Regions from separate parts of the Homo sapiens genome. Here regions 1, 2, 3, 4, 5 and 6 are each reported to be linked to region 7. Evidence: microRNA targets listed by miRTarBase, many of them from high-throughput screens and not tested one by one. Region 7 holds a microRNA gene; each other region holds the end of a gene's coding sequence.

Region 1 (4,069 bases), not on the chromosome of region 7:
ACAGAGGAAACTATATCTGTAAGGCTCAAAATAGTGTTGGTCATACACTGATTACTGTTCCAGTAATGATTGTAGCCTACCCTCCCCGAATTACAAATCGTCCACCCAGGAGTATTGTCACCAGGACAGGGGCAGCCTTTCAGCTCCACTGTGTGGCCTTGGGAGTTCCCAAGCCAGAAATCACATGGGAGATGCCTGACCACTCCCTTCTCTCAACGGCAAGTAAAGAGAGGACACATGGAAGTGAGCAGCTTCACTTACAAGGTACCCTAGTCATTCAGAATCCCCAAACCTCCGATTCTGGGATATACAAATGCACAGCAAAGAACCCACTTGGTAGTGATTATGCAGCAACGTATATTCAAGTAATCTGACATGAAATAATAAAGTCAACAACATCTGGGCAGAATTTATTTTTTGGAAGAAGTTTAATCAAAGGCAGCCATAGGCATGTAAATGAATTTGAATACATTTACAGTATTAAATTTACAATGAACATGCAAAATAAAAGGACTTGTAAATAAATGCATTATGAACTGATGATACTGATTTATTTAATGGATCTCAAAACAAACTTTTAACTTAAGGCACTTTTATTTTGCCAACAAATAACAATAAACAAACATTGAAACGGTTCACTATAAAATAACAAATGGCTAATGTACCTGAATTTTTCAGTAAAAAAATGAACTTCTAATACCAGTTGCCTAGTGTCCACCTCCTATCAATGTTACAAGCATGGCACTCAGAACAGAGACAATGGAAAATATTAAATCTGCAATCTTTATGATGTAAATTTACCATCCTGATGTATAAATATTTTGTGGTTTATAAATTTTTTTGCTAAAACCTACAGAAAATAAGCACTGAACTGTCTTATGATTCACCATTTGTTCACACTGAAAATTTTCATTGATGGGGAATACAAAAATGTTTTAATAACTGCATTTAAAAATAAATGCAGGCTCACTTTTCCACATGTAAAAAGCAATGTAATACCTGCACATCATAAAATGTGAAAAGGGGGTTATTTTTGTCCAAATACACCCATTAAAAAGGTTTTAAAAATACAATGAAACTTCTTTATAACTTTAAAATCTAGCTCAGGCACCCCTGGTTTGGAGCTGTTTATAAGGAAATTTTTCTGAGCAGGAATCGTTGCTCTATAAGCATTTCATTTCATTAATTCTTTATGGGATGGGAAAATGCTTGGGAGGGTCTAGGTCTATTATATATAATGAAGTTTCACTGTATTTAAAATCTGATCAATCCTACACAAAATGTGTTTTTGTAATTCACTGAATTTATATTACATGCTTAATTCAACCTGAATTAATTTGGGGAATATTAAATGATTGATCTTATCTAAATCTAGGGGTGGGGTTTTCCAGTGTAATTTCTCCAGCATCTATTCAAACATTCACCTAGTACTTACTTAAGAATTATAGGAGCTTTATAAATGGGAAAAAAATGCCATAGGTCTTAGATATCTCAGTGCACAAAACCGAGAATTACTAATAAGTTAGCCCCTGCCAATCATTTGAGACATGTGGAATAGCGCCCTTGGGTTTTCATCACACTGACTTTCAGTTAGCCCCATCTCAGCCTAAAATGTGACCTGGTTGCAACTTATGTCTGATGTTAGTACCCTGTGGCTGGAAGTGGTCAAAGCTACGCATTGATCTCCTCTACTTCCAGGCCAAGAAGGGTAAATGCAATGACTGACAAATGCAACCCTATTAAGAAAAAGCCTACAGTGTAAACAAGAGAGTCTATGGGCTTCTTATATCCAAGAACTGTGATTGATTGATAGGTATAGCTGACTCCATTTGATTTCAAGGTCTTGTCTTTAAGGGGAGCTGGGGTCTCGCTCCATCTTATTCTAAGGTAATTTCCTCTGGTAAGGTAAAGTACCAGGTTCTGCCACAGGGCTTTACCTTGTGACCATCTTAATGCAAAAGAATGCATTTGCAAGAAAAGAAAAAAAAAAAAAAAAAAAAGAAACCTCTCAAGATACAGAATTAACAGGGAGAAAATCTGAAGACTAAAGTAATTCTAGTTATTTTCTTTATAATGCGCAGGGGTAAAACAGCATTCCTCAACTTTCAATAGAATCGTGGAATTAATTAGAGTCGTAGCATAACTTCCTCACCTAAAAAAAGAAAAAAGATATGCCCCACAGCTTTCATGTGCAAAATGATTAATAATTTAACTCACCTCTGCAAAGTATAAAGTGCATACAAATGCTATGCAATTATAACACTCATTCTTAAAACAGTATTACTGTTGTTTGCAATGCTGAGCTACAAAATATATGGTTCAAACTGAACTGGCAAAGAAATTTGGAAAGAAATAATGATGGAACATGACTCACTCACTAGGCACAACATTCACATTTCGGTTGATTTGCCAATGCAGTCATTATATAGATATATTACTTTGAAGAAAACAACTTCATTAGCTTATCTAAGTATGTTTCTTGAGAGGAAAAAATCTGATATACAAAACCAGCAAAAATGTGTACAGATAGATGATACATCTTCTGAAAGCAGATAGACTATTAATTTAGTGAAAAGAATAGTTTTTAATGTTTTGGCAAAGTCTTTTCCAGCCCAGAGTAAACACAAAATGGGCAGGCTGGAGTGAAATATTTTCACAGTGTACAAAGCAGTTCACATGGATGTTGCCACAGCAAAGTAAGCTGACATGTATTTGAGGTCATTTGCATGAGTCAAACTTTGCAATGAGTAACTCACCCAGGAAGATATAAATTATTTATAGATAATGATTTGCAAAAGAAAATGTCTACTAAAGTTGTACTAGCTACATTTTAAAAAAAGTAGATTTACATGGTCTGCTCATTATAGACAAGTCTATTCACAGTATGCTTGACTATATTATATGTAAAATCATATGGCAAAAGAAAATGAAATAACAGAGAACATGGGAAAATATCCCCCACATATGTTTTAAAATGCCCTGCAATTTTCACATTCAAAATTTTATGCATCTAAATCTAAAAAAATATTATATAGAATACTCTTAAGTTACACAAACTGATAATTTACTGGTTTCTTTTTTACTCTAATAGGAGCAAATTACCACATACTTGAACAAAGTTAAAATAGTTACTATTTCTTTATAATAAATTTGATGTATAATTTACTTGTGCTTTTTGCACCAATTTATAAATACAGTATATGCAATACACAACCAAGACTGACACTGACAGTAATAATTAAATTCAAAAGAGCAAATACTTACCATACAAAATAAACAGCAAATACACCTTTTATGAAAACCAGAGCCTTCTGGACTTTGGGGCCAGATTCTCTGGAAACCATGTCAAGTGTGAGCACTGGAATCTCAAGCCAGCTACTGGATTTTTTTTTCCCCTTAAGGTGGCATAAGGTTCAGGAGAACCAAAACTGGCAATAAATAGTTGGACGATTCCACTGCAGTTCTTTCAGGCCTTTAGGATTTACATGTTGTACCTTCACAATGACTCTCATCAATGATCTTGCCTCAAAACAAATTTGAGTACAGCTACTTCTAACAGGTTTCCGCACATCTTAGGGCGGCTCTCAAAGAAACCTTGGTTTAGGTTCTTGGTTTAAGAAGTTTAAGTACGAAGCAACAATCTGTTTCAGCACCTTTTGACCACAACAAAAGCAAAGAAGAGTCCTACATAAATAAGAACAAAGTTTATAAAGTGCTTATGAGATTACAAACATTTCAAATTAGAGCGATGCAAATAAATGTCCGTTTCACCATCACAGGTGAATGCAGAATAAACAGGCCATGTTTCTGTCAAGATCTGACATGCCTTTCAAATCAGTAGTTTGGTCCAGCACAGTTTGGAAAATAAAATTAAAAAAAAAAAAACAACGTCATCATTAATGAATGAAATACATAAATACCTTAGATCCATCATAATCCATTCTTTCTAGAAATGTGAGATTCAAAAAAAGCACCAATTTCAAAAGGTCTGCTAGCACACTCTTCCGGGAGTAGGCCTGCCTGCATGATTCACATTTGTAAACCTACTTTAAAGGTGAATTCAACAAAA
Region 2 (4,058 bases), not on the chromosome of region 7:
TTGAGGCTTGCTTTCCTCATCTGTAGATTTAGGGGTCTCAATCAGGTCATCTCAAGTTCCCTAAACTTGCTTAAAAAGCATCAAACTTTGAGTTAGACCTTCAGACTTCCCTAACTCCTTTTTTCCTGAATTAAGCTATGACAAAGATGACCATATGTCCCAGTTCACCTAGTATAATCTCGATTTATATCTGTTGTCCTGGAATAACAATTAATTGCTCCTCCTTTAACTCTCAAAGGTATCTCCAGTCGGAAGATAAATTACATGCCCCTCATACCTATGACTATATTCATTTTAATCTTGGTTTAGATTTTTAAGAAAACACACTAATTTACTTTTAAGCCTACAAATATAGCATTTCATAGCTTGCTTTCTCTTAACACTTGGAGAAATTTCAGATTCTTTTGTGAGTGGTTTGTGAACTATCAAAAATTTTTTTAACTTGGCCGGGCATGATGACCTATGCCTCTAATCCCAGTACTTTGGAAGGCTGAGGCAGAAGAATCGCTTAAGATGGGAAGTTTGCGGCTGCAGTGAGCTACGATCACGCCACTACACTTCAGCCTGGGTGATGCAGAAAGGACCGTGTCTCTAGAAATAAAAATAATTTTTTAAAAACTGAGTAAGTCAAATGTAAATTTTCCTTTTCAAAAACAAATTATTCAGTATGCAAAACATTCTGTTAAGACATATTTTCTGATAACCTTAGAATACGTGGTACTTAAAAACTATGACTAAAATATTTGTGGAAGAATTCATTATCTTAGGTGATACATTTTAACAATTAAAATAGTTCCAGAACACGGTCTTCCACCTGACTTTGACGATTAAAACAATGTTGTCAAAAGAATGTTCTCTCTGAAAATTCTGGGTCTCATCCACCACCATAGGTCTCATCTACCATCAACTGAAATAAGCTAATCAGTTATAAACAAGGGAATATACTTAAAAAAAAAAAAAAGAGAGAAACACGGTCTCACTCTGTCTCCAAGGCTGGAGTGCAGTGGCACAGTCATAGCTCACTGCAGCACAGAACTCCTAAGCTCAGGCAATACTCCCACCTCAGCTTCCCAGGAATATACCACTTTTACTGCACTGACAAGCTCTGTATGCTAGTGATTCTCAAATTTTCTTTAAGGCTAGGACCAAGAGTCCTGCCAATCCCCTGAACAACAGCTCACATATTATCAAATGAACTTGAAACATTCCTGTCATAGTGAGCAGCATTGAAACAGATTCCATAACTGATTACTCAGTTTCAAGGGAGATTTAACATTGCTTTGTTTTCAAGTTACAAAAAGTTCCCTAGTTTTACTCAAATATGCACTATCCCTGATTAAAAAAAACATGTTTCATTATGAAGAGGGGTGATTTGTTTCAGCATTTTTTTTTTTCACTTAACCACTTAAGTCACTGCCTGAGGAAGTTTCTTTTTAAGGAAATAAATACCAGGTTCATTAGAAGAAAAAAAAAAAACACATAATTTTAATTCATTTTGTTTTAAAGATGCGTATTTTAAAAAGACTACTTTAAAATGAACTAATATGTTACACTGGATCATGCTGTGGCGACTAACGTATTGTCAAGCCTTAACCTAATGAAAACAAAAGAAAAGCGAGTTTGGCACTCACTTGCACTTTTCATCTCTGTTAGAAAGTATGTCTCAGTTTGGATCTGAGATCAGGTTTGCTTGGTAACCTCAAAGAATAATTTTCCTTTTTTTTTTCTTTCAAAATTTCCTTTTGATCATTTCAGACAGTTCATCCTTTTGAGTGAGAAAGAGTAAAAGAGAGGAATGTTGAGTGAGGTTAAGTAAATGGAGAATCTGTCACATAAAGCAAGTTTAAATCCTAGTAAGAGCATCCATGCAGGACAAACGGAAGCATTATTCTTTTGAAAACATTATTCTTTTAAACAGTGTGTAATGACATCCTCCCTAGAGACTTTCCATGAGAGGGGAAAAAAATTACTTCCTCAGAAGTCGTTTTCTAGATTCCAAGCATAATAAGTGAAGCACAGTTAAAAGTCAAACTTGTGTTTTCTTTATGCAAGAAGGTTCAAATTAGAACTGCAGAAAGGTACTTAAAAGTTTCTCTAGCTTGTCTTTTGGTTACATACTGGTATTGCTGTGAACTAAAAGAGCAAGTAAGAGGAAAGGTTACTGTTGTTACTTTACACCTATAAATCAGTGAGTGTGTCCTTACTGTAAAATTTGAGCTGAACATATTTTGTTTCAAAGGAGAAATATATGACTCAAATATGCTGAATGTATGATAATTTATTAAGTTCCTTTTAAGTATATCATTTTCTTATGCTCAAGTAGAAACTATGGATTATTTTTCTAGTATTCTATGCTGCTGTTACCTTCTGAGGAGTTGATTGAAAATTTTATGCTTTTAAAAGTTGGGTGCTACTTAAATATCAGAATTGGCTATTGTTTTAAATATTTAAAATATGCTTAAACAACAATTAAGGTTAATAAGCAGAGAAAATACTTCTTTTGATTCAAACACTACTTTATATATTTAATGAATACACGTCCAAATAAAGATCTCTCTTCAAAAATTTTGGAAAATGTTAATGCATTTTGAATATAATGGAACAAAGAAGAAGAATACTAGAGAAAATTCACAATTATGATGTTTATTTAGGAAAATAAACTTGAAGAAGGTTTTCTATTAAAAAAACATAAGAATCATATCCAAATTTTAGACTCTCCATCTTCTTTGGTATGAAAATCAACATTCATAATAGAAAATATTTTCTTTTGAAAGGTTTAGTTGTTATTGGGTCTATAACGGTTTTCCATATAAGGAAAATACAGTATTATCTGTAATCATCTCACTTATTGAACAACCAATGAATGCATGCAAGTAACCAAGCATATGTGTGCAGAGACCAGCATCAAGGAAATATTCATTCATAGATAAATGTTTTCTAATAAAATATATTTTAAGTTTTTAATGATCTTCTGCTATCATTTTTTGCCATGTTATCTGAATAGCCATCCAGATCTGTAGTAAAACATCCTGTTAGTTACATAACTCAAGAAGTACTTCCCCAAGGAAGCTCACACCATCATACCAGGACTTAGCAACATTTATCTTTCAACATGAGTATACCATTAAAATTTTTTTATATTTCTCAGAATTGTATTCTTCAGTCTTTTCCACAATATAGTATATGGAAATTGCTAATAGCATTAAATTAATATTAATAAAACCCAATTCTATCTAAACCTTTTTCTCATAAGAAAAAACATTACTTTAAAAAATAGACTTTTTGTTTCTTCTAAAAGTAGTACTATATGGACTGCTCAATTAGCAATGCCAAATACTTCCAAAAACACCATAGGACCACCAAGCTATTTCTATTGCTTTGATAATTTCTTTTCCTGCTCCAATTTCTCCACGTTCCTGCTTTCTTGTGTCAAAATATCTTCCCTTAATTTGTTAAAATGAATCTGAGGGAAAAAAATCTGATAATCTGGGGTAAAGAAATTTTTTTTTTTGCATAGACTCTTGTGATCACAAAATGACCAGGTAATTTATAGCTTCAGTGCTAACACTGTGATTGGGAACAAGAAGAGTACAACCATAATAAAATACAGCTATCTATGAGAAGAACTGCATAAAGACATCTTTGGCCATGTAGGCTCTGGGCCCTCTGGAAATAAGTCAGTTGCATTGCCAACATGACAAAGAAAATAGCAATGTTCAGAATCAGGAACAACCTGGTATAGGAAGCAGACAGTGATGGGGCCCTGCTGTGTGTAGTTGTCACCATCCGTGCCTGTCCAAACCGGCCTTTAATCAAGCCCCCATTTTTATGTTTCTCGTATGTTACATCTGCAAAATCTAAAAGGTCTTTCATTTCTTCATCTTCATCTATGGGTAGTTCTTTCTGTGCCAAAATCTGAGCTTTCTGTCTAATCTTTTTCTCATTGACTTCAATCTGTGCAAAAATATCAGGGACAGCATCCACAAATTTATAGCGTTTGCCTGCCCTTCGGTTTTTCTTTGACTTGCTTTGCTGCTGCTGTTGCTGTGATATGGCAA
Region 3 (4,070 bases), not on the chromosome of region 7:
CCCAAGCAGCTGGGACTACAGATGTGCACTATCATGCCCAATTTGTTTTTATCTTTTTTAGTGTGTGTGTAAAGATGAGGTCTTGCTATGTTGCCCAGGCTGGTCTCAAACCCCTGGGCTCAAGTGATCCTCTCGCCCTAGCTGCCAAAGCTCTGTGATTACAGGTATGAGCCACTGGGCCCAGCCAATTTAGGATTTGTTGAGCATCTAGGATCCTCTAGGTATTTATTTAACTTTTATTATTAGTCACACACACAAAAAAATTTTTTTTGAAATTTTGTCAATCTTAGCTTTTTCTTTGGAATAGAACAGTTTAAAATCCATTGCTTTCATTTGGAATTATTTAGCAAGAATGGAGAACAGATATTTTCTTTTCAATATATTAATAAATATGATCAGTAACATTGCCATTGCACTTCTCTAGCTTCCTTCTCTAAATGCTCCCTCCTCTGTCATTACAGGGGGCCTACAAGTCATCTACAATATGCTATTGTCCAGAGAAAGGAACCTGGACAGAACTCGAAGGAGATGTAGCAGAACCGTTGGCAGGCCCTGCCTGTGTGACAGTTATTCTGCCCTCTTGTGTACCATACAACAAATAACACCAGGAAACTCTGGAATGAACAGTATCACATTCTAGGAAGCAATGGCAGGTGACATCACTATTATAATAGGAACAATGCATTCTAATGGTACAACTGCCAAAACCCACCCTTGGTTTCTGATGATTTATAAGTAACTACAAAAGAAAGAGACCTGTTCTTGAACAGATACTATGTCTATAACTCAGATCGCACCAAACTTCCTGTGGTGACAGACTCTTCCATTTCAGACTGGTTTTAACTTATCCCAGCTTTACAAAAACTCTTCATGTGAATCTTAACTTGCAAAAGGAGAAAGATAAAATACAGAAGACTGGCCCCAGAGAGACCTCAGATCAGTATTGTGCATTGTAGTCTACCTGCATGTGATCTATGTTGACATTTCGGGGATATTGTGTTCAAGAATGATTCCAAATTTGAGCCACCAAAATACACTGCATTACAGAAATTGCCACTTGATTCTGTACTCTTAACCTTTGGCTACTTCACAGACTCCATTGGCAACACTGTTATTGAAAATCATGTAAGATTAAAGAGAGGCATTTTCGTTTCTATACAACTTCATTTCATACACCTTCTGCCCTTACAGCACCTCATGGGATCAGAAAAGAGAAAGATGTTGGCTCTTGTAATAAATGCTTTCTACCCTATAGGTTCTAGGCTAGACAGAGTCGTCATTTCTGTGTCCTCAATTTTATCTGAAAGATTAAAACAAAATATATTATGTCACTATTCAGTTCATGGAGGTTTGTGCTTTTTCATATTTTGTGATATATAAGTAGTGAACACACATGTTATTTACTTCAAAAGACAGGATTGACAAATTCAGTCAATACTATTTTAGAGATTCTGTTAGATGATATGTCTGACCCAAATTTAATCCATAATAAAAAAAAATGGGAGATTGTTTTCAGGAATTCAGGGATGAAAAGAAAGAATAATTTCCATTAAGTAGAATTCCAGTTGTCTTTCTGTTTCTAAAACACAGAACTTACAAGAGCCACAGGAGCCAATTATAGCACCTGACAGAATACTTCTCCTCTTCCTCACCTTCGGGTGCCTCTAGACACTTGACTTACGATCGTTATTCCCCCAATTCATCATATTTTGTTTGTTATCACCAGAGATGCCTGAACTCAGTTAAGCGAGCAATTGCTAGTTGTCTTGAGGAGCATGAGGAATTCAGGAGCAGAAGGTCAGGATAGCATGAGATAGTCTCAATGTGGCCAACCAAAAGGACAAAACTGACAGGAATGCACATTCGATTTTCAAGCCCTCCAGAGCTTGAACAACAACTTTAGGAGTAAATAAAAGCCTAAAATATATTTTAACCATCCAGAGATGGTGTTGAATCCTTCAACAAATGTGTCATTCAAAACAGTAATTAGGGAAATCCCACAGATGAAAAATGCCTTAGTGATAAGCTTTCATGGCAGAGCACGTCAAGATAAATGGGTATACTGGAATCCGATGCCGTTTCTACAGTAAAGTGCAATCTTCGTTGTTTTTGTATTTATTTGTATGTTCAGATCCAAAGGATCCGTTGTAAAAATATATATATATAAATATATGTATATCCAGTGCAATCAACTGTCATTTCTTTTTCCTTAAAACATATGAGTATATAGAAAGAAAAGTTACAGTACTCTGTGGGAAAATCTCAGCTGACATCATGAATAGAATGAGGTCTGCTTCAGAACCTTTTGTTGTCAACTGTCACTGTTTCTTCCAAAAGTCACAATTTGTACAAGAACCTTTGCTTTCCTTAGACTTGTTCTGCATTTTATTTTTTATTTCTCACCAAAATAAAAGCATTTATGAGAATTATAAGTAAAGCTTTCTGTATTTCAGAGAGACATAAGTTACTAGAAAGTGAAAAGTGAATAAATAAGTCACAGAGAATGTAAATTTTGTACAGTATTAGAATGTGTAAATGAAGCTTGCTTGGAAGGGGAAAACTTTAAATAAAAACTTTATGTACTAATTCAACTGTCTCTCATATCCTACTTACATATGTATAAATCTCTACATTAAACCGTTTGAAGGTTTGTGATATGTAAATGCCTAAATATTTTTGTTCTGAAGCTGTGATTTACAAGTGTTATTTGGCTTTCTCACAATATGTAAATGTATACAGTATGGACAGTGCTAAAATTATGGAATACTTCTGGAAAATGCTGTGAGTTAAAAATCATATGAGTGGAATCTGATGTTTTCACTACAAGAGTGTTATAATAAGACATAACTTATCTGAGATCAAATAACTAAATATTTATACACATTATTAGAAGCACCATTTGTGTTAAAAATAACTGCACCCTTTTTAAAGAATAAGTGAGTCACACATTTAATTAAATCAATTATCAAATACATAGTATTTAATTTTATTCTCTTTTGAAGATCTGATGAAGTAGTTGTACAGGGCAATTAGAGGGGCTATGGGAGACATAGGGGGAACTAAGGCTTGCAGTTAAGGGTAGCAGTTGGGCAGCCTTCCAGGCAAAGAGCTGTGTAAGATCAGGAGCTACGTTCGGAAGCCTGTAAGCTGGGGGGAATTTACTTTAATGCTTCCCAGCCAAATCTATCATTAGTGATGATTAAACTCAAAATTAGAGGATATTTTGATTCTCCCTAATATTCCACAAGAAAGAGTAATGGAGTTTCTTTCTCCTTCCATTGGATCTTCTCCTCCACATACTAGAGTAGCACACTGAAAGAAGACCCTTCTCCTGAGCCAATGGCTAGTTGCTGAAGGGCTTCTCCAAATCCCCTGAAATACCCAAGGCTCCAGTGCTGACTAAATATCATGAGATGTTAAGAAGGCATGCTTATCTTTTTCCTAATCCCAATAAGCCACCTACTTGATGTCCCTCGCTAGACTGTACTTTCATGTTTTATATTTAGTTAGTTAATACTTGAAGGAATTTTGGGTAAAGTGGAAATATACTGAGGGGACAAAAAAAGATATTTTTTCTAAGAATACATCTTAAAACTGACTAAAACTGGAAGAATGCATATACAGACCAGATTTTTAAAATTAATTAAGCTGTGTCTGTGAGCTTGAAATTAGTGTCTGCATTTGTTCTACCCTATTCAGCCAAAGTCATATTTTCCCAGCTGCTTGACACTTATATCACTTAACAAACTATCATCATTATCAACATGGTAAGTATCAAGTATTCATTGAATATCCCAAAGAGCATCATTATAAATGCCTGACTTCTGATTAAACTTAATTCTTTAGGTCAAAATAGTTTTTAAAAACAAATAAATAAGCTAAAACAAGAGTAGTAAAGCACACCAAAGCCAACTAATACACATTGATGAGTACCTTGATAGACTGAGTTCTCACAGAAAGGACCGATCATGACTGATCATGCCTGACTTTCTAGAAGCACCTAACCTTGAGGATATTAAAACTTTAGTGGAAAATATTATGCCAATAAGAAGCAGCAGAAGGGTCAATGT
Region 4 (4,070 bases), not on the chromosome of region 7:
TCAAGATTAGATCCCCAAGGTTTATTGACTTCTGTTGTCTCCTCTGCTGGGCCCCCCATGTCTTGATGAATGCATCTGTTCTTCTATTAGTGAATGGCCCACTGAATAGCAAAAACAGTAGTGCAAAAAACAATTATGGATACTGTTCTTACAAAGCATCAAAGAGATTTAGCTCATTACATGCAGTCTTATATTTTTCCCCTGATTTTATGAGTTTGGGCTTCATGGTCTGGGCCAGTGGCTCCATGGTCTTCTTCCTCTACAGACACAAGCAGCAAGTCCAACACAATCACAGCAACAGACTCTCCTGCAGACCTTCCCAGGAAGCCAGAGCCACACACACCATCATGGTCCTGGTGAGCTCCTTTTTTGTTTTCTATTCAGTCCATAGTTTTCTGACAATTTGGACAACTGTAGTTGCAAACCCAGGCCAGTGGATAGTGACCAACTCTGTGTTGGTCGCCTCATGTTTCCCAGCACGCAGCCCTTTTGTCCTCATCATGAGTGATACTCATATCTCTCAGTTCTGTTTTGCCTGCAGGACAAGGAAAACACTCTTTCCTAATCTGGTTGTCATGCCATGAGTCTTTTCTCTTCATGGAATTCAGCTATTTATCATAACTCTTGCTAAGATTTAGGAAATATTAACTACTAGTTATTTGTGATAGCAACATACACATGGCCAGTAATGCTCTTGTCCAGGAAGATCTAATACCAGAGCTAAAAATGAAAGTCATGGATACTGTTACACAAAGAACACTCTATATAACTGTGTTAAGTCCTTCAGACAAGTTCAGGAAATCAAAAAGTTTAAAAAGGGAATTCTTTAGAGATTTAGGGGAGATTTCTCATTTTTGTACTATGAAGAATCATGGAATGTTTTAAAAATATTTTTAAAGCACAGTTTGATTCAGGTGCTTCTTGAACAGCATAAATCCCCTGGAGAGTCCACATGTAAGAAAGACATGTGCAGGCCGGGCACAGTGGCTCACGCCTGTAATCCCACCGTTTTGGGAGGCTGAGGCACTCCCAAATGCCTCAAGTGATCCACTCAAGATGACTTGAGGCCAGGAGTTCGAGACCAGCCTGGCCAACATGGCAAAAACCCTGTCTCAAATACAAAAATTAGCCAACCATGTGGCACACACCTGTAGTCCCAGCTACTCCAGAGGGTGAAGCACGAGAATTACTTACCAGCTTGGGTGACGGAGGGAGACTCAAAATAAAAATAAAAATAACTAAAAGTGGCTGGGCACCGTGGGTCACGCCGGTAACCCCAGCACTTTGAGAGGCTGAGGTGGGCAGATCACTTGAAGTCAGGAGTTCAAGACCAGCCTGGCCAACATGGTGAAACCCCATCTCTATTAAAAATACAAAAATTAGCCAGACATGGTGGCAGGTGCCTGTAATCCCAGCTACTCAGGAGACTGAGGCAGGAGAATCCTTGAACCCAGTAGGCAGAGGTTGCAGTGAGTCGAGATCCCACCACTGCACTCCAGCCTGGGAGACAGGGCAAGACGCCGTCTCAAAAAAAAAAAAAAAAAAGAAAGAAAGAAAGTGCTTCTGCACTCCAGCCTGGACAATAGAGCAAGACTATCTAAAAAAAAAAAAATTAAAAATCAATATCAAAATAAATGAGTATTCTCATAAGCAAGACAAGCCTAAAGAAATGTGAGTACTAACTGTAATGTGGTTACATTTAGAGACACATGAAAAAAAATAAATAAAAGAATAAAAAATAATAAAATAAATGCAATGTGGTATCCTAGGTGGAATTCTGGAACAGAACATGTATTTTGGTAAAAACTGAGGAAATCTCAATCAAAGATGTACTTTAGTTTAATAATGTATCAAAACTGTTTCACTAATTGTAAATAATGCTGTATACTAATATATGACTATATATTAGTAACAACTAGGTGTGCTTGTAAATGAGATATCTCTGTACTATATTTGCAATTTCTCTGTACATCTTAAAATGTTCTAAAATTAAAACTCTATTAAAATAGAAAAATAAGATTTTTTTTTAAAAAAAGGGAAAAGATTTAGAAATTTGGCCAAATATACAGATAACAAATAAGCATATAAAAACTTATTCAGCATCATTAATTATTAGAGAAATGCAAATTTAAAAACCACACTGACCACAACACATCTATGAAAATGGTTAATCTTTAAAATACACCATAACCATCATGGACAAGGAGGTATAACAAATGCAATTCTGCTAAATATATTCATATAAACACTTGTATATGAATGTTCATGGGTCTTTGTTAGTTTTTTAGTCCAACACTAGAAACAATCAAAATATTTATTAATAGATTAATAAATTGTGGTATATTCAATGCAATACTCTTCATCAACAAAAAATGAATACGCTTAACATGTATAAATATCAAAAAATGCTCCATATGAATGTAATGTAGGATTTCATTTGTATAAGATACTAGAAAATTTATAGGCCGGGCATGGTGGCTCACGCCTGTAATCCCAACACTTTGGGAGGCCAAGGCAGGTGGATCACTTGAGGTCAGGCGTTCGAGACCAGCCTGGCCAACATGGAGAAACCCCCGTCTCTACTAAAAATACAAAATTAGCCAGGCGTGGTGGCGCATGCCTGTAATCCTAGCTACTCAGGAGGCTGAGGCAGGAGAATCGCTTGAACCCAGAAGGTGGAGGTTGCGGTGAGCTGAGATCGTGCCATTGCACTCCAGCCTGGGCAACAAGAGTGAAATTCTGAGAAAGAGAAAGAAGAGAAGAGAGGAGAGGAGAGGAGGAGGAGAGGAGGAGAGGAGAGGAGAAGAGAAGGAGGGAGGGAAAGAAACAAAGAAAAAAGAAAAGAAAAAAGGAAAAAGAAAAGAGCAGGAGGGAGGGAGGAAGGAAGGAAGGAAAGATGTATATAGTGACATAAAGTAAACCAGTGGCTACCTGAGCATAAAAATTTGGGTAGGACTGTGAGCGAGAGAGAATAGAAAAGGGTACAAACAAACTATTGAGGCAATGGATATGTTTATTATCATGACTTTGGTGATTGTTTTTATATATTTTACACTTTAACAATGTGCAACTGAATGTCACTAATACCTCAATAAAGCTGTTAGAAAAGAAAAATTCCAAATAAAATCTGGATTTCTCAATCCTCTTTTATAACCTCTGGCAAAGCTGTGTTGATTCCATCATTAGCCTCTCCTCATGTCTTACGTGGGTCAACTCTGATTTTATAGTATCAAAAACTGGAAGCAATGTTGTTGGAAATTCAGAATCTCGGGGAAGAAGAACTGGAGACAAGGAAGGTTATGTCCACCTGAGTCACCAGGAATTATGTTTAGGTTTAAAAAAAAAAAAGACTTATCTCAGAAGTATAGAATCTCCCTTCATTCAGTCATGAGGCTCCTACCTGTGCAGTAGTGGTTTGAATTAACAGGCTTTATGTCTGTGTCTGTCTTCCACTACTATAGCAAAACACCACAGATTGCGTAATTTATAAAGTAGTTTGTTTCATACAGTTCTGGAGGCTGGGAAGTCCAAGGGTATGGCACTGGTATCTGCTTGGCATCTGGTGAGGGCCTTGTTACTCTGTCATAATATGACAGAAGGGCAAGTGAGCATGAAAGACAGAGACAGCTGATTTTATAAAAACGTCACTCTCGGGTTAACAAACCCACTCTTATGATAAAGGCATTGATTCCTTTATAAGGGCAGAGCCATCATGACCTAATCACCTCTTAAAGGTCCCATTTCTCCACACTGTTAAAATGGCAATTAAAATTCAACATACGTTTTATAACGCCAGAGACACAAGAATCCATAACACCTTTGGATTACTTGCTCTGACAATGACTTTGCCTACAGGAGATACACACGTCTGTAGGTCCTCAGAGTTTCTGTATACCCTCATCTCACATAGCCATAGTTACTGAAACATTCATGGATGTCTCTTTACAAGGCGCTCATCCATTCCACTCTAGTTTGCTGGTGTCTCATACTTCATATTAATACAATCACTGTTTCTGTACAGACTATGGTTCCCAAACTGCTTGCTATGGTTTGACCATCTCCTCCAAAAG
Region 5 (4,070 bases), not on the chromosome of region 7:
TTTATGTTATTTTTATAATGAAATTCCTGTAGTATTTTCAGGTTAATATTTTTAACAACTGTATTAGGGCTGATCATTTTGTACAGCTGTAGGGGTGTGGCAAATAATGGAAGAATGACTGGACAAAGAATGCCTTGAAAGTTCTGTTTCTTGTTTGTTTGCTTCTCCTTAGATCTTTTCACTGACCCCTTTGTTGTAAGTCTAAGCACTAGACCACATATTTGCAAAACACTTATGACATTCAAGTTTTCAAAGGTTACTATTATTTAGAAACTTAGTAACACATGGAAGAAGGAGTGAATGAAGGTGAAAGGGAAGGAAAAGAAGACATGATGCAAAAACCAAGTGGAGGCCGTTACAGTATACTTTCTCATGTATGAATTATAAAAGAATGTTTAAATAATGACTTGATTCATTGTGAACTAACAAATGTATTTTTGTTTTGCAGAAGTCCACAAAAGGAAGATAGGATACCAATGGCAGATGAGTATTATGAATATAAGCACATAAAAGCCAAACTGAGACTATTAGAGGTCCTCATCAGCAAGCAAGATGTGGCCAAAACTATTTGAGGTTCAGGAAATGTTATGATCACTTTCACCCATGATATAAAGTAAAGTTTATTTTCCTCTGCCATCCTTGCTAAGTAGTTTTGACACAATGAAAATGGAAGCACTTTAGTGGTAGTATTAGCTGTTTTTAAGAAGGAATAGCAAGTTTAATTATATACAAGGAGAAGGGATTTAAACGGGGGGAAGAATACAACAGGTAGCCATATAATTGGGAAAAAATTCAGTGTCCTCCATGCCAAGCAGAAAACTCATAGTCAATACAAGTATTTTTAAAAATGTCTAATATTTTATCAAATCTAAATAACATAGCTAGGACACTTGTTAGGGAAAGTTTATTTAGTATCCAAAGACTGTTTATGTTGATGTATGGAAAAGAGCATGATTTTAAAAAATCAATCATAGGAGGAAAAGAAATTCGCTTTTCAAGTAGGAAGGAATACAGCTAGCAAGAAAGCAATTTATTTGAAACTTCTAATGGATTTTTGAGTGATAAAACATTTACTACCTTGTCCTTTAAGTCTGCTAGGCTCTCAGTACCCTAAAATAAACTAGATTGTGTTGCTATTTTTTTCTTTCTCTATAAAAATAACACATTATTTTATCCGTTATTTGAAATTTTACATTTCTGGTTACCAAAGTTCATTCTGATAGCATGTACTTTGTGAATTATTATCTTTGTCTATAACTGACAGATGTTTATATTAAAATAAAATATTGTATTAAAAATTTAAAATAGGTATTTTGGATAGATATGTGTCTGTAGTATATAATCTAATGTGTCCATAGTATTATTGCTAATCTTTTGGTTTACTATAAGATGATATAACTATTTTTTCATTGGGAATATACATTTTTCTTAATGTTCCAACATCTATACTTTGTAAAGTCAAAACATTTCCCATGAGCTGTAGTTATTCATCCTTCTGTACAAAATGAAAAGTTTGGAAATTGTTTGCCCTGATACCTTGAAAAAGAAGCCAGAATATTTATTTGCTTCATCAACTTCAGTGTATATCATTTTGTGTTATTTTATACGAAAACATGTTTATTATTTTCATTTTTGTAAAAGGAAGTAAAAGGTCAACATTTTCTCTCATGTACCAACCTTGTTTGTATTTCTATTTTCTGTAATGTTTAAGTATGATGTTGAAGAAATTCACATTCTCTTATAGTTTGGATGGGAAGACTATTGACTATTTCAGAAACAGACTTATTTCAGAGGCTTATTGTTTTCTCTGTATTTACCTAATATTTTATAACTTTTATGAATCAGAATAATGTCCTTCATAAATTTGTTTAATTGAAGTCATCTACTTCTAACAGGACAGATACACAACTATTTGAGGTTTACAAATTACATCTTTGATAAGGGAAATGGTTTCGTGACATGTACACAGTTGCTATTAAAATGTAACTCTATATATTCTATATGATTGTAAATATTTTATACAACAATACAAATAAAATATTTTTCTATTATATTTATTATGTTGAAACACAGTAGTTGTTTCCTGTTAGCTAATATAAATAACATAAATAACACTGTCAAACAAGAAGTTGGAAGTGCTGACAATTCTAGGCTTCAAGATTTAACTCATGCTGCAATTACACCCTTTCATGCGGTTTGGAGTTATCCCAATATTTGTTCAGTAGATTAAAATGAATGCATATTTAAACACCATTTATAAGCCATTATTGTGTACTTTGCTAAAGCAGTCTATATAACTGTTTTGTTATGTTTGGCATAAAGGAAACATAAAAACATTGCAGCATCTAGGCAATAAAGTGTCAAAAGGAGAACTTAACTTAGGGTATTTCATCATTGAAAGTAGTGGGAGGGGTAGGGAATAGGAAAACACTAAAATGGTTCTGAATGAAATTTGGAAAGTGGTAGTTGTTTGTTTTGGTGACAGTGGCATGTGCATGCTTCAGTGGAAAACATCTGGTGATAAAAATGGACAACAGAGGACCAATGCTCCTAAGGGAGGAAAAGGGGCTGAGTAAGAATAAGAAAAGTGGGCATTAACGTCCAACACTGATATTACAGGTTTTGCAGCTGGGATCTTTCTTTGCATTTGCAGTAGACAAACTCATGAGCTGATGACCAGTGATTTCTGCCACGGTGCCCACAGAAAGATCCACAGGGTCAGTGTAAATGACTTCTAAAATGACATCCTGGGCATGGTGGTAAACCAGCACCCCATCTTCTTCTGTACAGGTCAAAAATTTATTATCCTTAGAATTTAGTTGAGGAAGGCGCTGCTTACAAAATTCATCTCCTGGTGATCCCACAGGAGCAATAACAAGAATCACATAATGATAAGCAGTGTACATACAGTAGAAGTCCCCAAAGTATAAGTTAGTATTGGGGTTAAAAAGTTTTTCTGCGGCAATCTCAAACCTGTATCTTCCATAAGGTGAATCCTGGGGTGGCTTTCCAGTATTGAATTCAGTGCTGCAGCTGAAGAAGATGCCTTCTAATTTTCCACTGATAGGAGAGCCATGGCTACCACTGTTATCCTTGACAGATGGCTGCATAGCATTCCCATGATGTTCTCTGCAAGAGAAAACAAGTGGTCACTGCTTAATACAATAGTGGTAAACCCACTGATTTATATATTTGAATGGCCTAAAAGTCAAACATCTACTGTTAAAGGCCTGAATACCTCTCTTACTATCAGAATAAGGGGACAACATCTTTTGACATATTACCTATAGATGGCTGTATTCTAGCTTTGACCTTAAGGTAAGGATGAGCTGCTACAAGCCTTGGAGACTTTGTATTAAATTAACATAATAATGTAAATTTCCTGGCCAGAAAAATCAAACTGGAATTAGAAACCTTACAGGTAAAATCACACATACATTAAGTGCCAACTGGGTTTCAGAAGTGGCTTTCTGAAGAGAAAACTGAACTAAAGGTATTGGTTAAATATATTGAATGTTTCTTTAAAGCATGATAGATTTAGTCATAAAATGAGTGCTGTCCATTTATACTGGCACAAAAGCGTTGTGTTTTGTTTTGGCTTTTTTTTTTTTTTTTTTTTTTTTGAGACAGAGTCTCACTCTGTTGCCAGGCTGGAGAGCAGTGGCACGATCTTGGCTCACTGCAACCTCTGCCTCCCAGGTTCAAGCAATTCTCCTGCCTCAGCCTTCAGAGTGGCTGGGACTACAGGCATATGCCACCATGCCCAGCTAATTTTTGTACTTTTACTACAGACGGGGTTTCACCACGTTGGCCAGGATGGTTTGATCTCTTGACCTTGTGATCCGCCCACCTCGGCCTCCCAAAGTGCTGGGATTACAGGCATGAGCCACCACGCTCAGCCCTTGTTTTGGCTTTTTAACCCAAGGACAGTAATCAGGTTATTTCTCTGGCATTTTGCTTAAAACAGTGCTAGTTATTCCCACTTTACCTCACCCCCAAATCCATTCATTCTCCACCACAGTCCTCCACTGTGACCTGGGACTCTAGCATTCAGTTCCTTATCCCTTGGC
Region 6 (4,064 bases), not on the chromosome of region 7:
CTACCCATTCTGGGTTACACAACCCCCATTAGATACTCTTCTCACCCTATCTGGGCTCTAAGTCACCGTGTCATAACTCCCTTCGCCACCGTGTGGTAACCTTATTCACCCTGTCTGGGTTCTGATATCCCACTGTGATCTCCCCTCCTCTGTGTGGATTCTTTCTTCACCCCATTCAAACTCTTAAGCCCACTTCAGGTCATGGGCCACCATGGCTCCCCCTCAATTCCCACTGGTTCAGATGCCACCTTGCTCTATTTCACCTCTAGGACTGACTTATTTATGAAGGGAAGGGAAGAGGAAGAGTCCAAATAACTCCTAAATATATGTGTTGTACAGATTACCTTTGCTAAATCTTGTTGAATTAGAAGAATGAGCCAAAGGCAACATATGTATGGTTTCAAATGCTGCTAACTGTGCTAAATCATTCTTTGTGTGGGGGAGGCAGTTATATTTACTTGTAAGCATCCCCTAAGGCTTTGCTTTGAACATGGTAATCCTGCTAGAGTTTGGATGAGAAAAAGACAGCTTTTATTGGAGCAAAGAATGGATTAAACAGGAAAAGTAACTAAGACGAGCTACCTTTTAAATCTCATCTCACTTTGCTTCTTCATGCCTTCCCCAGAATAAATTGCTATACAGATTGGTCCCAGGGATCTAAATTACAAAAAATGCTGAACATCACACTAAGACATCTGTTCTTCCATTTAAAATCAACAATGGCAAGTCACTGAATGGGGTTGGGCAAAAAAAAAAAGCATAAGATTGTGAGAAAAAATTTAATTTCGAATTATGAAATTGGAAAAAATCATGACTATATTGTATATTTTGTTAATTATTTTCAAGATGAAAGGTATACAATAAATGGACTGGGTCAGGGAAATCATTTTATAGTTGGGGTGCTAACAGATAAGCTGTTTTTATTGGTTAATAAAGTATTTATGCCACACAGAAAATCAGCCTCGGTACCACTCCCTGACTTGTTACTGCATTATTGCTATCACAGAAACCAATCAACAATTACTTGTTTTTATAGTTTGTATAAGGTAAAGCATAATAAAATGCAGTGCTTAAGTAGCCAGCTTCATCCAAGTAAGTAAAAATGGTATATCATCCATTTTTTCCCCATATTTAGAGGAAAGACTATTAATTAAATATTTGGGAATTTGATTTTGGAGAAACGCCTTCAGCACTATTTAATTACTACAGAAGCTAAGATGTAATAGGATTCAGTTTAACTTTTAACAGTCTGGAGAGACCAGCCTACATGCTCTTTTGGCAAGATCAGTAGTTCTTGGCATCACCCAATACCAGGCATCAGAGCCTTCTTGACACTGAGTGTCAGCCTCAAAGCACGCTTGGTGGACTGAGAGCATGGTTGGGTAGGAAGATCAAGGAGCAAGGATAAGAACAACCAGGCAGAAGTAAGGCAGAGATTACTGGAAAGAGGAGAAAGGAGAAAAGGGGAGAAGGGAAGAGGCAGCTTGATAGAGAAAGAACGGGAGTGGAAACAGAGGAGAGAGCTATGTATGGCTTGAATGTGTCCCTCCAAGGTCATGTGTTGGAAACTTAATCCTCAATGCAATGTTGAGAGGTGGGACTTTTAAGAGGTGATTAGGTCATGAAGGTTCTGCCTTCATGAATAGATTAGTGCTGTTATCATGGGAGTTGGCTAGTTGTCTTGGGAGAGGGTTCCTGATAAAAAAGATGAGTTCAGTCCTCTTCCCTCTTCTTTCTCTTGCCCTCTTGCCTTGTACCATGGGATGATACAGCAGGAAGGCCCTAGTGAGATGCAGGCCCCTCGACCTTGGAATCTCCAGCCTTCAGAATGGTAAGAAACTCATCTCTGTTCTTCATAAATTACCCAGTCTAAGGTATTCTATGACAGCAGCACAAAATGGACTAAGACACAGAAGAAGAAGAGGAAGAGAAAAGCAGTTGAGAGGACAAGTGAAGACAAAGTTATTGAAAGATGAGATTCATTATCAGAGGAAATATGGGAAATATAGAATGAGTGTTTAAGAAAAAAAACAGGAAGGTATCTCAGCTACAACACTTTGTAGGCATGCAGATATTTTATTGCTGAAAATTTACATTTCTACATTTGAAGAAAAAATTCTCTGACCTATGACCTGTGGCCAAGTCTGAGTAGCCTGTGCTTTCGTTTGTCCACGTGGTGAAGTCCCACAGCCTCCCCTGACACTCAGGGAGAATCCTCTTGTGAATCAAATACAAAAGCAAACGTTTGTTTTGTATTTTCATTTATGGCTGCCTTAACTTATACAAGAAATAGGCAAAAAGTCTTAATCACATTGCTTTGAGCGTATGTAACATCTTTAAAGACTGTTAATTGATGTCATACTCCTTAATCTTTAAAAATATCACCCTGAGGAGGAGATTTGTAGTTTTACCCCCATTCTACAAAAATAAAAATAAAAGATTAAATCATATACACAAAGTCTAGAAGAGGAATGATTAGCTTTAGTTGTCTTGTTTTAATCAAGCATGAGAAAACTAAGCTAATTCCATACATTGGGACTGATGAAAATGTGTAAAGTAAGTTGGTCCACATTACAAGTAGGTTCAATTTGGCCAAAAGACACTATGTTTCAAACTTAATCCCCTGAGTGCAAAACTGTAAGGATTATGCTCCAGTTAGCCTTTTAGTTCTGTTTCTTTCATTTCAAGATTCCTTTTGCCCTAAATAGTAGCCTATACTTGCTATTGTCTTTTGACATCATTGTTTTCACTCGTACGCTTAGGCTGAAAGGGTGTCCATCCCACTGGTGAATACACAATTAAGAGCTTCAGAGCAGAGCCTTCATCTCCACTATGGCCTCCACCACAGCAAGCCTAAGTGCACTTCCATGGATCCTACAATCATTTGTCTTTTTGTGACACCATAAAGTTTAGTAACCAGCAACACGTGGTTCAATGCAGGATGTACTGTGGGAGAGAGAAATGGGCAGGAGAAGACACACTTCTTGCCTTTAGGGCTCGTTAAATTGTCTCCTCTTTCTTTTTCAACTTGCTTTTCTTTGGCTCCACTGTCTTCTAGTGAATATACTTTTTGAGTTTCTGTCTTTTTATATTGTCATGTTATCTTCTCATTAGTCTTTTCAATCTTCAATGTTGAACTAAATAAACCCTAGGGCCTGGAAAAACTGTTATTTCCCTCAGCAAAGAATGTGCTCCTCATTAATGCCATTGATTTTTATATTCCACTGGCCTTCGCAACAAAATAAGCAAGACTATCTTAGGTGAATTTGTTTTTACGTGACATTTAAAGTAAATTCTGTGGGATTATAACCCAACATGAAGTGACATCTTTCCCAGAAATACAGCAGCATTGGCAAAATTGTCAGCAATCACCCACCCTCAGGGCCAAACATGACAATATGAGAAGAATGGCACTCTGAGTAATAAATGTGACTGAAATACAAATAAAATGTGTGGTTTTCCAGACTCACAAAGTATTGGAAGACAAAACTGTGAACAAACTACATTATAATATGCAAGAGGAGTGCTGAAAGATAGCCACAAGCTATGTGTTTCTCCTTAGCCACGCAGCTATCCTGGCACTTAGCTTCTTGTTTTTCAGATTTTCATTCTTTATTGTCTGTAAGTTGGCATGAACTCTGATCCTCTGGTGTTCCTCCAACATGTTACTGAAAAACTGCTGCAGCTGGAAGGACAGAGAGACAGATGATCAGTGCAATCCAACTTCCCATTTGGACAAAGTAAATGTCTAAATGCTAAGTAGCAACATGAGTTTGTAAATTGGTGATGATGGTTGGAATGAGTAGAAATGTATACTCCTAGGTTGTGTGTCCCTGGGGAGACTGTGACTGAGACAATGTGATGAACACCACACCTACCCCAAAGAAGCAGATGTAGACAGGAAGGTGCATGAAGCAGAAACTATGCCTTATTCCCAAAGCACATATTGAGTCTCAATGAATATTTACTGAACGCATATAGAGTGTTCTCTAAGATTTGCAGACAGAGATACAGTGAACCCCCCCAATTTTTTAAAAATCTCAAAAGAAACTGCAACTTCCGAA
Region 7 (4,070 bases):
ACATCACAGCATGTGGTTGGGAATCAAGACAAATTGGGGTTGGGATCCCAACTCTGCTGCTTGCCACATGTGTGACTCTGGAAAAGTTATATATTCCCTAGGCCTCAACTTCCTCATCTATAAAATGGGGATTTGAAAAAAGGACTTACTTCAAGGGATAGTTGTGAGGATTAGTGAAATAACAGATGCGTTTAGCATTTCCTGGAACACAATACATGCTCAATAAAAGTTATCTATTTGTACCATTATCCAAGATTTTATTTTACAGAGGTCAAGAATCAAGAGAGTTTATGAAAGGAATGAGTGACCTTTATGTTATCAAAAAGCTAAGGAAGTATCTGTACATGCTTACCTTCCTTGAATGATGTAATATGGGTCTGTCAGGGTAATTATTTAAACTCTTTCTGAGCCTCTTTTTACCTAGACCAGTGCCTCCCAAAATGTGGTCCTTGAACCACCAGCATCAGCATCATCTGGGAAGTTGTTAGAAATGAAAATTCCTGGGCCTACTTTTAAACCTACTAAATCAGATGCTCCGGGGTAGAGCCTAGCATTCTGTATTTTAACAAACTCTCAAATAATTGTGATACACTAAAGTTTAAGAACCACTAGCCTAGACCATCTTTTAAAATGTACAATTTGGCTGGGCACAGTCGCTCACCCCTGTAATCCCAACACTTTGGGAAGCTGAAGGGGCATTGCTTGCGGTCAAGAGTTGGAGACCAGATTGGGCAATATTGTGAGCCCTCATCTCTATAAACATTTTTTAAAAAATAGCTGAACGTGGTGGTGCATGCCTGTATTTCTCGCCACTCAGGAGGCTGAGGTGGGAGGATCACTTGAGCTAGGGAGGTGGAGGCTGCAATGAGCCATGATCACACCACTGCTCTCTAGCCTGGGCAACAGAGTAGAACCCTATCTTAAAAAAATAAAAGTTAAAAAAAAGTGTACAATTAAATGGTTTTTAGTACATTCACAGAGTTATGCAACTATCAGCACAATAAATTTTAGAACATATTCATCACTTTCAGAAGAAACTCAGTACCCATTAGTATTTACTTTCTATTTTCCCCCAAGCCCACCAGCCCTGGGCAACCGCTAATCTTTCTACCTCTGTGGATTTGCCTACTCTGGACATTTCATATAAATGGAATCACGTGGCCTTTTGTCTGGCTTCCTTCAGTTAGCATCATGTTTTTAGGTTCATCTGTGTTGTAGCATATATCCATACTTCCTTTCTTTTCATTGTTAGCTAATATTCCGTTATATAGACATGCCACATTTTGTTTATCCGTTCATCAGTTGGTGGACATTTGGTTTGTTTCCATCTTTTAGCTATTACAGATAATACTGCTGTGAACATTTGTGTACAAGTTTTTGTGTAGAATATGTTTTCATTTCTGTTGGGTGTGTAACCAGGAGTGGAATTGCTGGGTCCCAGGGTAACTCTGTTTAGCCTTTTGAGGAGCTGCTAGACTTTTCCAAAGTGGCTCTCCCATTTTACATTCCTGCCAGCAGTGTATGAGGATTCTAATTTCTTTATATTCTCATCAACACTTGTTATTAAATATTTTCTACTAGACTATCTTTTGAGATAATGAATTCTGTAAGCTTATTATGTTACGTCATTTATTTTCCTGAAAGTAAAAGCATTTAAAGGATGCCTCTTAGCTATTATTGCTGAGGTTGGATACCTGGTTTCACATTTGTACTTCCATTTTGTGATTTTATAAACTTTCATCATATTCTTTTTAGCAGAATTTAAAAATATATATCTGAAGATATATATCTTAATAAAAGTATATATAACAAAAAATAAAAATCATAATAATTTAATCTTAAAAATACAAAGCCCTTCTATCTTTTTTATTAGTTTAACATTAAAACAATTGAGCCAGGACATTTTTATCCTCTGATATGTCTAGCCTAGTAATTATTCAATAAATGTGTTTTTAAATGGTTGATTTTCAAACATGAGTATAAACATTTCTTAGCTTTGCAAAACACCTCCTATCAAAAGCAACTCATTTTCTTGACACATTGATTTCTGATTACAAGCCCCAGCTAAAAAAATAGGGTTATACTCAAGCTGATTGACCTTTCTCAAAGCTGGTTTTTTTTTGTTTTTGTTTTTGTTTTGTTTTGTTTTTCCAGAGGAATGGCTTCTTGTGGGAACCAAACAAGGACATCTTCTTCTCTATAGGATTCGGAAGGACGTTGGTAAGTGCACATTGCTCATGCAAAAAAATAAGTTTTAATAGTCAGCTAGTATACAACTGTGAAATCAGTTATTCCTGGACCATTAAAAGAGAGATTGAAGGTTAGAGGGAGCACGGTGGGAAAATGGGGAGAAGACTTGAGAATGCCTAGGGTTTTTCTCCTCCAAATTGTATTGCCCTACCTGCATTTGGGAGGTGAGGATGAATTGCTGGTTTACTTATTACTGAATTACTTATTACTGGTAGTGAGTCTCTAAGAAAAGAGGAGGTGGTTGTTTTCCTCCTCTTTTCTTTGAGACTCACTACCAATAATAAGAAATACTACTAATGGGCATAAGCTTCCTGTATATATGGTGTGGTGGTAGGAAAAAAAATTAGGCAACATCGATTTAAAATATCTTGTTGGCTTATGAGGGGTAGAACAAGAAGAGAGGACCAGGGTTTGCCTTCATGTGCACTTCCCCCTGGCTGCGTGACCGTGAGCAAGTTCTTTCCAACATCAGTTTTCTATAAACTCTCTGCCCCACAAAGTTGTTGGGGTGGATGCAATAATAGGCTCGAAGAAACTGTGAAAACTAAAGTTCTAATCAAATGTGACTGTCAGTAATGTAGAGTAATAACTAAAGTATTTGAAATGTATTCTGTTAAAGAGTGTTTTTTATTGGGGCAGAAAGTACCTCACTGCCCTTCCTTGTTTTCGTTTCTGTGCTCTCTTTATGGAGAATAGATGTGTTTAGGTATTATGCCCTGGAGCCACTCTACAGAAATCTGCAGTTAATTTCATACCCTTCAATATAATATATATTTCTCTGGTAAATAGCTTAAGAGATAGCTTAAGATAAATAGAGCTCTCTTGTGGAACCTGGAGCAAGGGTAACACTGGGGGAAAAAGCACCTTACTAGTGCACTCGGGAAAGAGAAGATATCCTGGTCAGTTTCTGCAGCAGGGTAAGAAAAGAAACCAGAGAACAAAATAGATAATTTATTTCATTTCTAAGTTTTTCAACTGTCCTCTAAATCAGGGTCAGCAAACTTGTTCTGAAAAGGTCCAAAGAATAAATATTTTAGGCTTTGCAGTGTTGTTACTACTTAACTCTGCCTTTGTAACATGAAAGCAGCTGTAGGCAATATGTAATGAATAGGTATGGCTATGTTCCAATAAAACTTTATTTACAAAAACATGCAAAGGCCTCAGTTAGGCCCTGGAGCAGTACATTGTTGATCTTTGTTTTAATGTTTTAAATTTTTAATTCTCATGGCCTGTGAAGTGGCTCATGCCTATAATCCCAGCACTTTGGGAGACTGAAGTAGGAGGAATGATTGAGGCCAGGAGTTCGAGGCCAGCCTGGGCAACATGGCAACACCCTGTCTACAAAAAATTAGCTGGATGTGGTGGCACGTGCTTATAATTCCAGCTGCTCTGGAGGCTGAGGTGAGAGGATCGCTTGAGCCCAGGAGGTTGAGGCTGCAGTGAGCTATGATCACACCATTGCTCTCCAGCCTCAGCAACAGACTTTGTCTCAAAAAAAAATTTCTTTTTTTAGTTCTCGGAGCCAAAATATTTGCGTTCTGTGATATTTGCCTGGTCTATAATTTTAAAATTAAGCTCACATTTTAATTTTAAAGCTAAAAATGCTTATCTTATTCAGCATTCAACAATTGTTTTTTGACTCTCTGCTTTGCTTTCACATGTAAGTGGTGATCAGAAATTGAAAACAAGACTTTATAAATGAAGTCTCAACACAGTATAGACCTGAACTGGTAATATTAGTGTTAATCTGGCTTGGAACCCTGGTGGCGACTATTCCTTGCCCTATGATCATTTTATCATGTCACCTTTGACAAATTAGT

The links. Region 7 holds the annotated microRNA hsa-miR-627-3p (UCUUUUCUUUGAGACUCACU, at 2,504-2,523, shown strand). A microRNA usually pairs through its seed, bases 2 to 8, with sites in the 3' UTR of a target mRNA and lowers its output. Matches are read on the target gene's strand: a 7mer-m8 pairs with bases 2 to 8, a 7mer-A1 pairs with bases 2 to 7 and ends in A, and an 8mer does both.
Region 1: the mRNA of IGSF10 is a reported target of hsa-miR-627-3p. The part of its 3' UTR that is shown has no 7-base or 8-base seed match.
Region 2: miRTarBase lists DSE as a target of hsa-miR-627-3p. Seed matches in the 3' UTR shown: 7mer-A1 at 3,388-3,394 and 7mer-A1 at 3,164-3,170.
Region 3: miRTarBase lists KLHL14 as a target of hsa-miR-627-3p. Seed matches in the 3' UTR shown: 8mer at 1,206-1,213, 7mer-A1 at 1,529-1,535 and 7mer-m8 at 2,233-2,239.
Region 4: the mRNA of VN1R1 is a reported target of hsa-miR-627-3p. The part of its 3' UTR that is shown has no 7-base or 8-base seed match.
Region 5: miRTarBase lists FAM13C as a target of hsa-miR-627-3p. Seed matches in the 3' UTR shown: 7mer-A1 at 942-948 and 7mer-A1 at 978-984.
Region 6: miRTarBase lists LVRN as a target of hsa-miR-627-3p. Seed matches in the 3' UTR shown: 7mer-A1 at 3,115-3,121 and 7mer-m8 at 3,032-3,038.

The regions. Positions count from the first base shown.
Region 1 is chr3:151,432,994-151,437,062 of GRCh38, reverse strand. It overlaps IGSF10 (immunoglobulin superfamily member 10), which reads left to right. Exons shown (of 8, transcript NM_178822.5): 8 at 1-860. The coding sequence ends at 374. It overlaps MED12L (mediator complex subunit 12L), which reads right to left. Exons shown (of 45, transcript NM_001393769.1): 45 at 410-4,069. Among named protein-coding and RNA genes, the nearest start is that of IGSF10, 26 kb to the left of the region's middle.
Region 2 is chr6:116,436,849-116,440,906 of GRCh38, reverse strand. It overlaps DSE (dermatan sulfate epimerase), which reads right to left. Exons shown (of 6, transcript NM_013352.4): 6 at 1-4,058. The coding sequence ends at 3,562. Among named protein-coding and RNA genes, the nearest start is that of CALHM6, 22 kb to the left of the region's middle.
Region 3 is chr18:32,671,189-32,675,258 of GRCh38, reverse strand. KLHL14 (kelch like family member 14) reads left to right here. Exons shown (of 9, transcript NM_020805.3): 9 at 462-2,586. The coding sequence ends at 602. Among named protein-coding and RNA genes, the nearest start is that of KLHL14, 100 kb to the left of the region's middle.
Region 4 is chr19:57,451,939-57,456,008 of GRCh38, reverse strand. It overlaps VN1R1 (vomeronasal 1 receptor 1), which reads left to right. Exons shown (of 1, transcript NM_020633.4): 1 at 1-1,219. The coding sequence ends at 584. Among named protein-coding and RNA genes, the nearest start is that of VN1R1, 3.2 kb to the left of the region's middle.
Region 5 is chr10:59,244,116-59,248,185 of GRCh38, reverse strand. It overlaps FAM13C (family with sequence similarity 13 member C), which reads left to right. Exons shown (of 14, transcript NM_198215.4): 14 at 449-2,053. The coding sequence ends at 572. PHYHIPL (phytanoyl-CoA 2-hydroxylase interacting protein like) reads right to left here. Exons shown (of 5, transcript NM_032439.4): 5 at 416-3,129. The coding sequence ends at 2,595. Among named protein-coding and RNA genes, the nearest start is that of PHYHIPL, 70 kb to the right of the region's middle.
Region 6 is chr5:116,025,599-116,029,662 of GRCh38, reverse strand. LVRN (laeverin) reads right to left here. Exons shown (of 20, transcript NM_173800.5): 20 at 2,057-3,685. The coding sequence ends at 3,545. Among named protein-coding and RNA genes, the nearest start is that of ARL14EPL, 4.8 kb to the left of the region's middle.
Region 7 is chr15:42,198,046-42,202,115 of GRCh38, reverse strand. It overlaps MIR627 (microRNA 627), which reads left to right and starts at 2,450; the gene lies at 2,450-2,546. It overlaps VPS39 (VPS39 subunit of HOPS complex), which reads left to right. Exons shown (of 25, transcript NM_015289.5): 2 at 2,155-2,220.